Regions from separate parts of the Homo sapiens genome. Here regions 1, 3 and 4 are each reported to be linked to region 2. Evidence: microRNA targets listed by miRTarBase, many of them from high-throughput screens and not tested one by one. Region 2 holds a microRNA gene; each other region holds the end of a gene's coding sequence.

The links. Region 2 holds the annotated microRNA hsa-miR-6770-3p (CUGGCGGCUGUGUCUUCACAG, at 901-921, opposite strand). A microRNA usually pairs through its seed, bases 2 to 8, with sites in the 3' UTR of a target mRNA and lowers its output. Matches are read on the target gene's strand: a 7mer-m8 pairs with bases 2 to 8, a 7mer-A1 pairs with bases 2 to 7 and ends in A, and an 8mer does both.
Region 1: the mRNA of PIAS4 is a reported target of hsa-miR-6770-3p. Seed matches in the 3' UTR shown: 7mer-m8 at 1,598-1,604.
Region 3: miRTarBase lists TRMT5 as a target of hsa-miR-6770-3p. Seed matches in the 3' UTR shown: 7mer-m8 at 3,007-3,013.
Region 4: the mRNA of ZNF33A is a reported target of hsa-miR-6770-3p. The part of its 3' UTR that is shown has no 7-base or 8-base seed match.

The regions. Positions count from the first base shown.
Region 1 is chr19:4,037,224-4,040,334 of GRCh38, reverse strand. It overlaps PIAS4 (protein inhibitor of activated STAT 4), which reads right to left. Exons shown (of 11, transcript NM_015897.4): 10 at 2,831-2,961; 11 at 949-2,719. The coding sequence ends at 2,460. Among named protein-coding and RNA genes, the nearest start is that of ZBTB7A, 28 kb to the left of the region's middle.
Region 2 is chr16:14,928,669-14,931,779 of GRCh38, reverse strand. MIR6770-1 (microRNA 6770-1) reads right to left here and starts at 960; the gene lies at 901-960. It also overlaps the pseudogene PKD1P3-NPIPA1 and the pseudogene PKD1P3. RefSeq lists an enhancer at 1,059-1,872.
Region 3 is chr14:60,972,368-60,975,478 of GRCh38, reverse strand. It overlaps TRMT5 (tRNA methyltransferase 5), which reads left to right. Exons shown (of 5, transcript NM_020810.3): 4 at 1-4; 5 at 285-3,111. The coding sequence ends at 370. It also overlaps the pseudogene RNU6-398P. Among named protein-coding and RNA genes, the nearest start is that of TRMT5, 7.2 kb to the left of the region's middle.
Region 4 is chr10:38,056,309-38,059,419 of GRCh38, forward strand. It overlaps ZNF33A (zinc finger protein 33A), which reads left to right. Exons shown (of 5, transcript NM_006954.2): 5 at 1-3,111. The coding sequence ends at 252. Among named protein-coding and RNA genes, the nearest start is that of ZNF37A, 36 kb to the right of the region's middle.

The DNA.
Region 1 (3,111 bases), not on the chromosome of region 2:
GTTTCCAAGGGGCTGCACCACGTTATCTTCCCCAGCCATGTGGACTGCAGCTTCCCTGACCCTCGCTGCTGTTTTTGATGCTAGCTGTCCTGGTGGGGGTGACAGGTATCTCACCGTGCATTTGACTCACATCCCTAACATCTCTTCATGTGCTCATTGGTTGTCTGTATATATATTTTTTTGAGACGGAGTCTCGCTCTGTCGCCCAGGCTGGAGTGCAGTGGCGTGATCTCAGCTCACTGCAACCTCCGCCTCCTGGGTTCAAGCAATTCTCCTGCCTCAGCCTCCCGAGTAGCTGGGACTACAGGCGCCCGCCACCACGCCCAGCTTTTTGTATTTTTAGTAGAGATGGGGTTTCACTGTGTTAGCCAGGATGGTCTCGATCTCCTGACCTCAGGTGATCCACCCGCCTCGGCCTCCCAAAGTGCTGGGATTACAAGCGTGAGCCACTGCACCCGGCCCTTTTTTTTCACCTTACAAAAGCAAAACATTTGTGTATCGTCTTGGCCACCCAGAGACATGGACGATCCTGGGACCTGAATTCCATGTACAGCCCAAGTCCCTTCTCCCATTCTCCCAGCGTGGTGGACACCAGGCCCAGGCAGTACAGTACACAGTAAAACTGGCCTCATTCAGGTCGGGCATGGTGGCTCATGCCTGTAATCCTAGCACTTTGGGAGGCTGAGGCAGGAGGATCACTTGAGGCCCAGAGTTCAAGACCAGCTTGGGCAACACAGCAAGACTCCCTGTCTCTATTAAAAATAAGTAAATAAATAAAAATCTGCCTCATTTGACCACGAGCAGCACCTTTTGAATTCTGAAGCTGAGGCAATAACCAAGAAAGAGAGATGTGGGTGAGGCTGAGTTTCTGTCCTTCCCCCAACTCCGCCCCCCGACTACAGGGTACACACTTAAGAGACACAGGGCACAGAAAAGCGGACGCCTGGATGGCTTCACCTCGACCTTTTTTATTTGCATTTTTTAAAAACAATTAAATTAGAATACAAATATTAGAAAACAGCGGCCTTCAGCTGCCCGTGCGGGCGGGAGGGGCCGAGCTGCGCAGCGGGCTGCGGGCTCTGCAGTGAGACTGAACTGCCCTCGGCCAGATGCACGTCCCTTTCTTTAGACCTGAAATGATATTGCTTCCTGACTAGGAGTTCTGTTTATACAAAGGAAAATTCTGGGCTGGGGAGGACAAAAGCAAAACAGACCGCAGGCAGCGGTGTTGGAGAACCAGGTGAGGCCGGTGCCCCGCCTGCGCCCCGGTCTCCTGCGGGGCAAGGGGGGTGCCCAGCTGTGGGCTCCTGAAGGCAGAGCCCTGGTAGCTCCCCCAGTTGTTGGACCCTGAGGCCAAGGGCATGGGTGGGGCCTGCGAGGGGCCGGGAACGCCTGGGGACAGGAAGGAGGCCCCTGGTCTGGTCCTGCTGGAAGAGTGAGGCTCCCGGGGGACAGGGTGCCGGGCCAGCCTCGTACCCGTCGGAAAACCAAGAGCAAAAAGGAGAGGAATCAACCCAAACCGAGAGCCGGGGTGGCCGGGGTCCCTGCTGCCCCTTGGGAAGCGACCGCAACCCATGCCCCAAGGACCGGGGTATGGTGGCGGCGGCGGCGGCGGCAGCTGTGGACATCTGTGGACATCTGTGCTGTTCCGTAGGGAAGTTAACCTGAATTGGAATTACCGAGGTAGCTGGCTAGAAAACTGAGACCCCCCCACGCCACACGGTGCCGCACCCTGGGCCCCCGCCTTCCCCGGGGGTTCCTGACCACACGCCGGGTCTTCAAAATACCAAATTATTGCACTTTCAAAAAATACAACACATCTGTGGCTAAACCCTCCCCAGCCGCCCACTGTACCCCCATCCTGCCCACCCATCCCCCCACCCTACTGCCCCTCCCCGCCCCAACCCACTCCATGGCTTCTCGGCTAAAACGCTCGCTGCTCGGCGCGTGAGGGTCTCTGGGCGAGGATGCATTTGCAGAGAAAAAGCAAAGGAAGAGACAAACGTCAAAGTGGTCGCCAGAGAGGGGCTGCGCCCCACCGCCCGCCGCCCGGGTCCCCGCGCACTGGCTGGAATGGTCGTGGGCAGAGGGCGGCGGGCGGCGGGGCATCCGGAGGGGAGGGCGCGGGGCGGCGTCCTGGTCCCTCCCGCCCACTACCCCTTCCCGGCTCGGACTCCAGCCGGGGAGGCGGCTGTGTGGGTGGCCGGCCTTGTTTTTAAGAGTTTGACTTTTTTGTTTCATTTTTCTTTTTTGTATCTTTTTTTGTCATTTTACTTTTTTTTTTAATCCCCCGATAGGAGAGTCCAGAGGTACAGGTGCCAGGAGCCAGGCAAAAGGGTGGAAAAACAAAACGAACGACAATAAAAAGAAAAAGAAAGGTCACTCCTCCCTCTGCGCCCGAGGCTGGCCCGTGCCCCTCTGCGTGGTGAGCACCAGGAAAGTCGAGTGTGCGGCCGGGGTCAGCAGGCCGGCACCAGGCCCTTCTGGAAGGGGCAGCGGCGCTTGGGCCGGGGCCCCTCTTCGTCCTCGTCTTCCTCCTCCTCTTCCTCCTCCTCCTCATCCTCCGAGGACGATGAGCTGTCCAGCGTGAGGTCCACCACATCGGCGCCCGGCTTCCCATTCTCCATGCTGCCCACCGGGCCGCCGCCACCCGTGCTGCCCAGGGCACCGCTCCCGTTGACGCTGGGGGCGGGCAGGAGCCCATTGGCGTCCGAGGGGCCTACGGGCAACAGGGACAGGGTGCAGGTACTTAGGATGCAACCACTGATAAATGGGGAAACTGAGGCGGCCCTGGCTGCGGACTGCGCGGCTGGTGGGGTGAGGCACTCACCCAGCACGAGGATGGCGCCCTGCGGGCTGCAGCTGCGCTCCTTTTCGGCGCGGATCGGGCACCACGAGCCGTCCACCAGGTACTCGATCTCGTCGGCGTCCTCACACTCGCTCAGGATCTTCGAGAGGAGCCTGGGGCGAGGCGGACAGCTGACGCCGGGGCTGGAGGTGCCCCACCCCCCCAACTCCCCAGCCCTCCATCCCTCCCGGATGCAGCCAGGCACTCCCCACTTCTCTCTGCAAGAGCAGCCTCACCACCCCGACCGCAGGGGTCCAGGGACC
Region 2 (3,111 bases):
ATGGGAACACGGCCAGGTGTGGTGGCTCACACCTGTCATCCCAGCACTCTGGCAGGCCGAGGCAGGCGGATCACCTGAGGTCAGGAGTTCGCCTGGCTGACATGGTGAAAAATTAACTGGGTGTGGTGGTGTGCACCTGTACTCCCAGCTACTCAGGAGAATCGCTTAAGGGGAATCGCTTAAACCCAGGAGCTGGAAGTTGCTGTGAGCCAAGATCACGCCATTGCACTCCAGCCTGGGCAACAGAGCGAGACTCCGTCTCCAAAAAAAGAAAAACGAAAACAAAAAGGGAATGCCAGAAGGGCAATTCCAATAAAGGAAAATGGAGGTATTGAAGAAACAGCCACGGGGAGGGTGCTGGCACCTCCGCCTGAGAGACGAGCTATGCAGTCAGGATCGCGGGTGGATGCATGGTCTCCCACAGTGGTAGCGATGCTCATGTCACTTGTGGGGCCACGCTACTGTGCAGAACGTGGGCTGCCCACCCTGACTGACTGGCACCTACTTCCAGCTAGGAGCTGTCCTAGTCCTCAGGGACAGTGAGTGCTCACGAGGTCATTCCCAGGATGAACACACGAGCCCTTCACACAGTACTGCAAAAACTGCCTTGTTCTGACGCCTGCGACGAGACTCATTCCCAGAGGGTGCAACCAGCACAGCCAGTGAGAGCAGGGGAGGCCCTGCCACCCCGCCGCGCCCCTCACCTGAGCCCCGGCCCCAGCCTGTCTTGACGAGGATCTCGTACTTGAAGCGGCCCCGCTGCCCACAGAAGGGGATGGCGCGGCCCCGGCTGGCATCCAACTGGTCCAGCTTGTGCAGGATGGCGGCCATGACCATGTAGGTCACCAGGCACACAGCACATGTCAGCATGACGATGTAGTTTACATCCGCTGTTGGCTCCTGTGAAGACACAGCCGCCAGGCCCAGGAGGTCACGTGCAAGCTGTGCCTTCTCAGGATAGAGCCGAGCCCACCCAGGCCCTCCTCGACTCTGCAGAGGCTCCCAGGAGCACAGGGTCACTCACAGGAAACACAAAGCGGATATGGCTTGGGGGCACGAAGAGGCTGGTGCCGAAGGCGGTGAGGTGGCGGGTGAGGCAGACGGCCTGGCGGGGCGAGGTCTCCTCCAGGGGCAGCAGCCCCTCTGTCCGCCACACCACGTCCTCCTCGCTGAAGTACTGGCACAGGGACGTGTACAAGCCCACGGACACCTCCAGCGCCGACCAGCGGAAGTGACTGGAGAGGTTCAGACGGTAACTCCCCACTGGGTCTCTGGTCCTGGGAAGGGAAGGGGCAGTGGACGTGAGCCCAGGCTCCGCCAGGTTGGATGTCGAAGTCCCAGAGCCCATACCCGGTCCAGTCCCCTCGCTGCCTGCCGTCCCCACGGGGCCCGTAACCCGGGCAATGCTGACCCATGATGCCCTGCCCTGCCCTGCCAGGCCGGCCCGCAGAGCTCACCCCGGGGAAATGAAGAAGGTGTAGGGCCGGTGGTCGGCACCCTGGAGGGACTCTGGGCGGATCCTCCTGCTAGCCGAGCAGTTGCGCTCATTGGGCCGGGGCTCCGAGTGCAGGTAGACTGCCAGGTAGGGCTCGGGTTCCTCAGACAGGTAGCGGCCTGGGGCAGAACGCGCAGGTCACACGCCTGCCGGGAAGCTCAACCACCCGGGGGACACCCACGATGGCCCTCCTGAGCCCACCCTCTGCCATGGGCCTGAAAGGCCATAGGAGCCTCTGCACCAGAGCTGGCACCTGCTTCTCCGTGGCCCCCAGCTCCTCTCCGGCCAGGCCCCCAGCAGCCCATGAAACAGAAAGCAAATTTCACCAGAGACACCCATGGAAGCCCTACGAGAAACGCCTTCCCCCCAAGAACAAGGCCAGGGGGCCGCGTGTGCCCCAACCGCTGCATGCACCGTCCAGCAGCGTATAGTTGAGCTGCAGATGCAGCACGGCCGCAGGGTTGCTGCTGTCCAGGGTGACCACAGCACCGACGGAGGCCTGGGGCTGGACCACAACGGAGTTGGCGGAGCTGCGGTGGCCCCGGGCAGCCCAGTCCGAGTTGTTGGGCACCTTCACGGTGAGGCGCGCTCTGAGGCCAGCCGCTCGATGGGGATCTGGGCGCCGGCCTGTGTCTGGAACGCCATCGAGGCCACCTTGGTGGAGACGGTGTAGTTGCTGATATAGCCAAAGGGAAAGGGATTGGAGTCCACCAGAAAGATGAGCTGCACCACGTCACTGAGGTTGGCCGGGGCCCTGCTGAAAGCCTAGGGGATGGAGAAGTGGCAGCCAGGCCCTGGGGCGCCGCCATAGCACAGCAGGCTCCGCGGGTCCGAGCGCTTGCCCTGGGCCACGATCTCCTCACCCGCCAGCGTCAGGGGCTCCTCGTTGAGCACGCGGGAGCGCGTGAGGATGGGCGTGAGGGCAGAGGTCAGGTTGTAGGCCTGGGACGCCACCATCCGCGATGGTGACTCGGCTCCCAGCTCTGAGCGCTGTGGTGCCCGCACGTCTGAGCTGGCCAGGTGGATGAGGTCTCCTGCAGACAGGCGTGAGGTCAGTGCAGAGACAGGGAGGCAGAGGGAGGGTGGGGGCAGGCAAAAAGGGGGAGCCGGAGGGTGGGGACTGGGAGAAAGGGGGAACCTGAGGGGGCAGAGAGCGAGGTGCAGGCAGAAGGAAGGGGGAAGCTGGAGAGAGAGTGGTGGAGGGGGAGGGGGAAGGGGATGGGGATGAGGACGAAGATGAGGGGGATGATGGGGAGAGGGAGGAAAAAGGAAGGAAAAGGGTAGAGAAAAGAGAAAGGGGAGAAGAAGAGGAGCAGGGGGAAGGGAGGGGAAGGGGATAAGGCGGATAAGGGAGGGGAAGGGGGATAAGGGAGGGGAAGGAGGATAAGGGGGATAAGAAAGATGAGGGGAATGGACAAAAGGACGGGGAGGATCGGGGGGGAAATGGAGAAAAGGGGAGAGAGATGGAGAAAAGGGATGGTAATAGGGAAGGGGGAGGGGGAGGAGAATGGGAATTGGGGGAGGGGGATAAGGATGGGAATTGGGGGAGGGGGATAAGGATGGGAATTGGGGGAGCGGGATGAGGATGGGAATTGGGGGAGGGGGATGAGGATGGG
Region 3 (3,111 bases), not on the chromosome of region 2:
CCAGGTGAGCAGTTTCTGGGAAATTAAATGTAAACCTTGCCATTCAATTGTAACTAATTCCTCCCAGTTTTACAAATTTTAATGCAGTATTAGTTCAGTCTAATAGAAAGCTACTGTGTTAGTTCAGTCTAATAGAAGGCTATTTCATTAAAATAGTAAATCTGCAAGAATGTTATTTCATGTTTAAGTTGACTAGATTAAAAATGCCTATATTGTTTGTTTTTTTAAGAGTATTTTCAACTGTTAATATCTTACCTAAAATAGGTTTTCTGGATTTATTACAGAGAATCATGAAGATCCACCTCTTAAAAGGCAGAGGACGGCTGAAGCCTTTTCAGACGAAAAAACACAAATTGTTTCAAACACTTAATTGGAAATGTTTTCTCCATCTCCCTACCAGACTTACATGTAGTGAAATAGAATTTGTATTATTTAATAAAATTTTAGGGTTTGGTTTTTACTATTGAACCCTTGTACTTTGCCTTATTTTACAAATTGAGGATTACCAATTAAACTTTAACTGAACTAAGGCTACCAAATACATTCCCTGTTATCTAAATTATAACATACAATTATTTTATAACAAAATATATCTAATTTTTATTGGATAAATATGAATAAATATTTTCTCTCAGGGAAAATAATTTTTGAAAGTAGGGTGATTGAGTACTAACTAGGAAGGTATTAACACCACTTTGTAGTTGTCCTTTACGTAACTACTCCTTTACTGCCAATTAACTATCACCATAAAAGTAATAAAAAATGAAATTATTTAGAACGGGGCAGGCAAACTACATCCTGCAGGCCAAATCTGTCCCACCACCTGTTTTCATATGGCCTGTGGCCTAATAATGTTCTTACGTTTTCCATTGGTTGAAAAATAATCAAAAGAACATTTTGTGACGTGAAAATTTTATGACATCTATTATGTATCAGTTTTAAAAATTAGAATTGTATGAAATTAAGAGTTTCAGAGTTCATAAAGTTTGATTGGAACATACCATGCTCATTTGTTTACATATCATCTGCAGCTGTTTTTTGTTTTTAATATGGAACGCTTCACGAATTTGCATGTCATCCTTGCGCAGGGACCATTCTGATCTTCTCTGTACCATTCCAGTTTTTTAGTATATGTGCTGCTGAAGTGAGGACTGCAGCTGCTTTCTTGAACAATAGCAGAGTTGAGTGGTTGCAACACACACTGAATGTGACTGTCATCACTTCACACTGCTGTTTGACACATCACAAATCACTGATGTGGTTGTAACGACAGCATTTTGAGTGCCATGTATATCACATGAACCCACATTTTATTTTTTATTACCAGAGCATATCTATTATAGCAAAACAAGAAAAGTGGACTTTGTTGTTATTTTTAAAGTACAGTAGGGTGTGAATTATTTTGATGTTGAATTAGACGACAAAGCATCTATATAGCTAAGCTAAAAGAATAACCATTGACATTACCAGACAAACCACTCATCACAGTATTCCCAACTCACAGGCAAGCAACTGTTAGAAAAATTAGAAAATTTAAAATGGAAATAACAAAGCAGAATTTCTTCACAAAATGAAAATGAGGCTGCAACAACAGTAAGTCTCTAAGTCAATCATTTGTTAGCCAAGCAAAGCCATTTATTGATGGTGTGAATTAATTATGTTTGGATGCAGCAGCTGAATATATCCAGAGAAAATAAACTTAAGATTACTGGCCTTTGGCAAGAACAGTTGCTTAAAGAGTTAAGGACATTGAAAGCGACATAAATAGTCACTTTAAAAAGGAAATGATTCTGGATGGTTCTTTGACTCTATTTTTATTTTTACTTAGAGACAGGGTCTTGCTCTGTTGCCCAGGCTGGAGTGTAGAGACACAGTTACACCTCAATGTAACCTTGAACTCCTAGGCTTGAGATCTTCCCATCTCGGCTTCCCAATGTGTGAAGGTTACAGGTGTGAGCCCTTATATGTGGCCCTCGTGAATGGTTTAGCACTATCCCCTTGGTGGTGTCCTTAAGATAATGAGTTATGAGATCTTGTTGTTTCAAAGTATGTGGCACTCGCCCCCCACACTCTCTTGCTCCTGCCTTCGCCATGTGAAGTGCCTTCTCCTATTTTGCCTTCTACCATGAGTAAAAGCTTCCTGAGGCTTCCCCAGAAGCAGATGCCAGTGCTATGCTTCCTATAGCCTGGAGAACTGTGAGCCAATTATACCTCTTTTCTTATAAATTACCCAGTATCAAGTATTTCTTTATAGCAATGCAAGAATGGCCTAAAACACAAGGCAAAACAACTTTGATATGGTACAGTCATTTTGACAATCGATATTTGAATCACAATATTTGATGACAATATCCTTACACATTTGTCATACTATCAAAGAGAAAGAAACAAGATTTCCATTCCCACAAATTTTAGTGAGTATATTTTCTGAGTTCAGCATTTTTAGGGACCTAGGTGCAAGTGCAAAGGAAATTTCCCTGTTTCAAAATCTATTTAACTGCAATTGAGGTGATTCAACCTAATTTTCAGTAAGAAGTGATTAAAATAATGACATGCTAAAAGGCAAATTTCAAGGGAAGAAATGTAAAAGAATTTTACAAATGCTTTCCAAGTGATGAATATGCTCAGTTAATTTCATATGCTCCTGGATTGATAGCAGTATTTGGCAATACCTATCTGTATGAGAAGACATTTTTAAAGATGAAATGTGTAAAATCTTATTACCATTAGTATTAATGGTTAATGATGGTTAATGATAACCATTAATAGGCAATCATTTACAACTGATTTTGATCACAGGGAACACTTACTTAGAACCCTGATTAGAGGCAATGTTATTCTCACCAAAAAAGGCATTACAAAAAATTGGGCTATATTTTGAATTTTGTCAATTAAAAAAGCGTGGGAGCAGTGTGAAGGAGAAGAGGCAAGAACGACCCCTGGACCGACCAAAGCCCGCGCGCTGCTGCGTCCCACACCCGGTGCCCACATCCCGCCGCCGCCGCCGCCGCCATGCCCAAGAGAAAGACTGAAGGGGATGCTAAAGGAGATAAAGCCAAGGTGAAGGATGAATCACAGAGAAGATCTGCGAGGTTGTCTGCTAAACCTGCT
Region 4 (3,111 bases), not on the chromosome of region 2:
ATCTTTTACCGTAAATCGGAACTTGCTCAACATCAGAGATCACATACAGGGGAAAAGCCCTATGAATGTAACACATGCAGGAAAACTTTCTCTCAAAAGTCAAATCTCATTGTACATCAGAGAAGACATATAGGAGAAAACCTTATGAATGAAATGGATATTAGAAATTTCCAGCCACAAGTCAGCCTCCATAATGCCTCAGAGTATTCACACTGTGGAGAAAGCCCTGATGACATCCTGAATGTTCAGTAACTATCCACAAACTCACCTTATGTTACTCCAAAGTAATAGTAGGGGATAAACCCATAGACTACAACAATTATAGGACAGCTTTTGTTAGGAAGTGATATTCTATGTAATATCAGATGGTTAATACGGGCATAACACCTTACAGATTTTTTTTGAATTTGTGAAAGTTTTTGGCAAAAATGCAAATAAGGTTATGTTAGAATTTACACTGAGGAGAAAATTGTCAATTTAAGAAATCTAAAGTGAAAATTTTGCTTAGAAATAAAATACGACAAGTTATGTTTTGAGTTTGATGCCATAATAGTTTTTAGGGCACCTAACAATAATTTATAGATGTATATTGTGGAATGTAAAGCTTTAAGAACTTAAACAAAGGTAATAATTAAAATAACCTCACAAGAAGTTTAATGAGTAGAGAGAATTCCCATGTACACTTCACCAAACTTCCTCTAAGGATAATGTATAATCATAGTATATGGTCAAGTCCAAGAAATCGATGTTACCTTGCTGGTAGATAGAGACTTAGTCAGATTTTACTATGGTTTGCATGCACTCTGTGTGTGTGTGTACGTGTATGTGTGTGTGTGTGGTTATATCAAACTTTTACGACTTTTACATTTGAGTAACCATCAACACGATTAGTTTACAGAACTGAAAAGGAATCTGAGATCTGTACTGTATCAGGATTACAAAGGATTTAGCCTCAAGTAGTTCCCTTTTTGTATTAATAACCACACGCTTTCTGCAACCCTATCCCTTGCATCCACTTGACTATGAAGTTTTTTTAAAGCACAGATAAATTGAATAATCAGGGCAATAGCATTAAGCACATCTGCGAATTATCCCTGAAGTTCAAAAGACTTATATATGTATAAGTGGTATGTGATATAAATCGTGTGTTTCATATGCATAATGGAATTTAACGTAATTGTGAATAGGAAGTAGGTATCCTAGTTTAGTAGTGGTTACATTATCAGGCCCATCCCAGATGTTTGTGATGTCCTGAAACAATTTAAAAGGAGACCCACAGAGCTAATGTTTATCCATTTAAAAGGTATAAATCAAAATAACAAATTATCTAAAAAAAATCTATCCTGTACATGTGAAGATCTAGGCTCGCCTCCATGTTACTCCCTTTCTCTTCCTACCTGTGGCTCATGCCATGCCATGAAGTGCCTAGGGTACATATGTGAACATTCCAGCCTTCAGCATAAGTGGTAGTCCAAATTTTCTTTAAGCAGCTGCTCTCCAAGACAGGGCCCTGGAAAGGCCCACACATACAGCCCAGGGCTGCCCAGGGCTGTTGGACTGTCATTTCAAGGCTCATTGTCCCCAGACAGGGATCTGGGCCCTCAGACTTTTGAGAATATGAAGAGGAGGGTTGAGGCTGGAGCAGAACCAGAATCAAGCTGGTGTGGGGCTTTTATTGATAGTGTGAAGATTGTACACTATATTACATGATCAGATCATACAAATAATCTAAGATTATACAGTCTAGTGATCCTAGATTACACAAGTAATCTAAGCTTCCACTTTAGGAAACTAGAAAAAGAAGAGCAAATTAAATCCAAAGTAACCTGAAAAAACATTAGAGTAAAAATCATTGAAATTGAAAAGAGAAAATCGATAAAACCCAAAACTGGTTCCTTGAAAAGGTCAGTAAAATTGATAAACCTCTAGCTAGCTTAAGAACAAACAGAAGACAAATATTGCTAATACCAAAAATGAAAGAGGCCATCACAGCTAATCCTATGGTCACCAAAAGGATTAGAAAGAAACATGGACAACTCTGTCCATAAATTTGATAACTTAGCTAAAATGGACCAATTCCTTGCAAGACGCATTCTCTCAAAGCTCACACAAGATAGACCTCAATAGGCATATGTATCTATTAAATAAACCAAAGCAGTAATTAATAACCTTCCAAGGCCAGGTACAGTGGTTCATGCCTGTAATCCCAGCACTTCACTTTGGGAGGCTGAGGCGGGTGGATCACAAGGTCAGGAGTTCGAGACCAGCCTGGTCAACATGGTGAAACCCCCTATCTACTAAAAATACAAAAAATTAGCTGGGCATGGTGGCATGCGTGTGTAGTCGAAGCTACTCAGGAGGCTGAGGCAGAAGAATCACTTGAACCTGGGAGGTGGATGTTGCAGTGAGCTGAGATTGTGCCACTGTACTGCAGCCTGGGTGACAGAATGAGACTGCATCTCAAAAAATAATAATGAAACTTTCCAAAACAAAGTGCCAGGACCAGCTGGGTTCACTGATGTGTTTTTGAGATACTTAAGGTAGAAATGATACCAAGTCTCTACCATCTCTTTCAGAAAATAAAAGCAGAGATAACACTTCCCAACTCATTTTGTGAGGCCAGTATTACCCTAATAGCAAAACCAGGCAAAGATATTACAAGAAAGGAAAACTACAGATCAATATTTCCATTGAACACAGATGCAGAAATCCTCAAAATATTAGCAAATCAGGAATGCAAGGCTTGTTCAACATTTGATATTCAGTGTAATCCATTGCATGCATTAGCAGCTCAAAGATGAAATACGATCATATCAATAGGTACAGAAAAAGCATTTGACAAAATCCAATATCCATTCATGTTAAAACCTCTCAACACAGAAGGAATACAGGAGAACTTACTCAAGTTGGTAAAGAACATACTACAAAAAACCCTACAGCTAACATTATCCTTGATGTTTCCAACTAGACACTTTCCTACTAAGATCAGGAACATGGCAAGGAACACCACACCACTGCTTTTCAGCATTGTACTGGAAGTGCTATATAATGCAGTGTTAAAAAAAAAAGAAATAAAATGCACATAGATTTGAAAGGATGAAATACAACTTT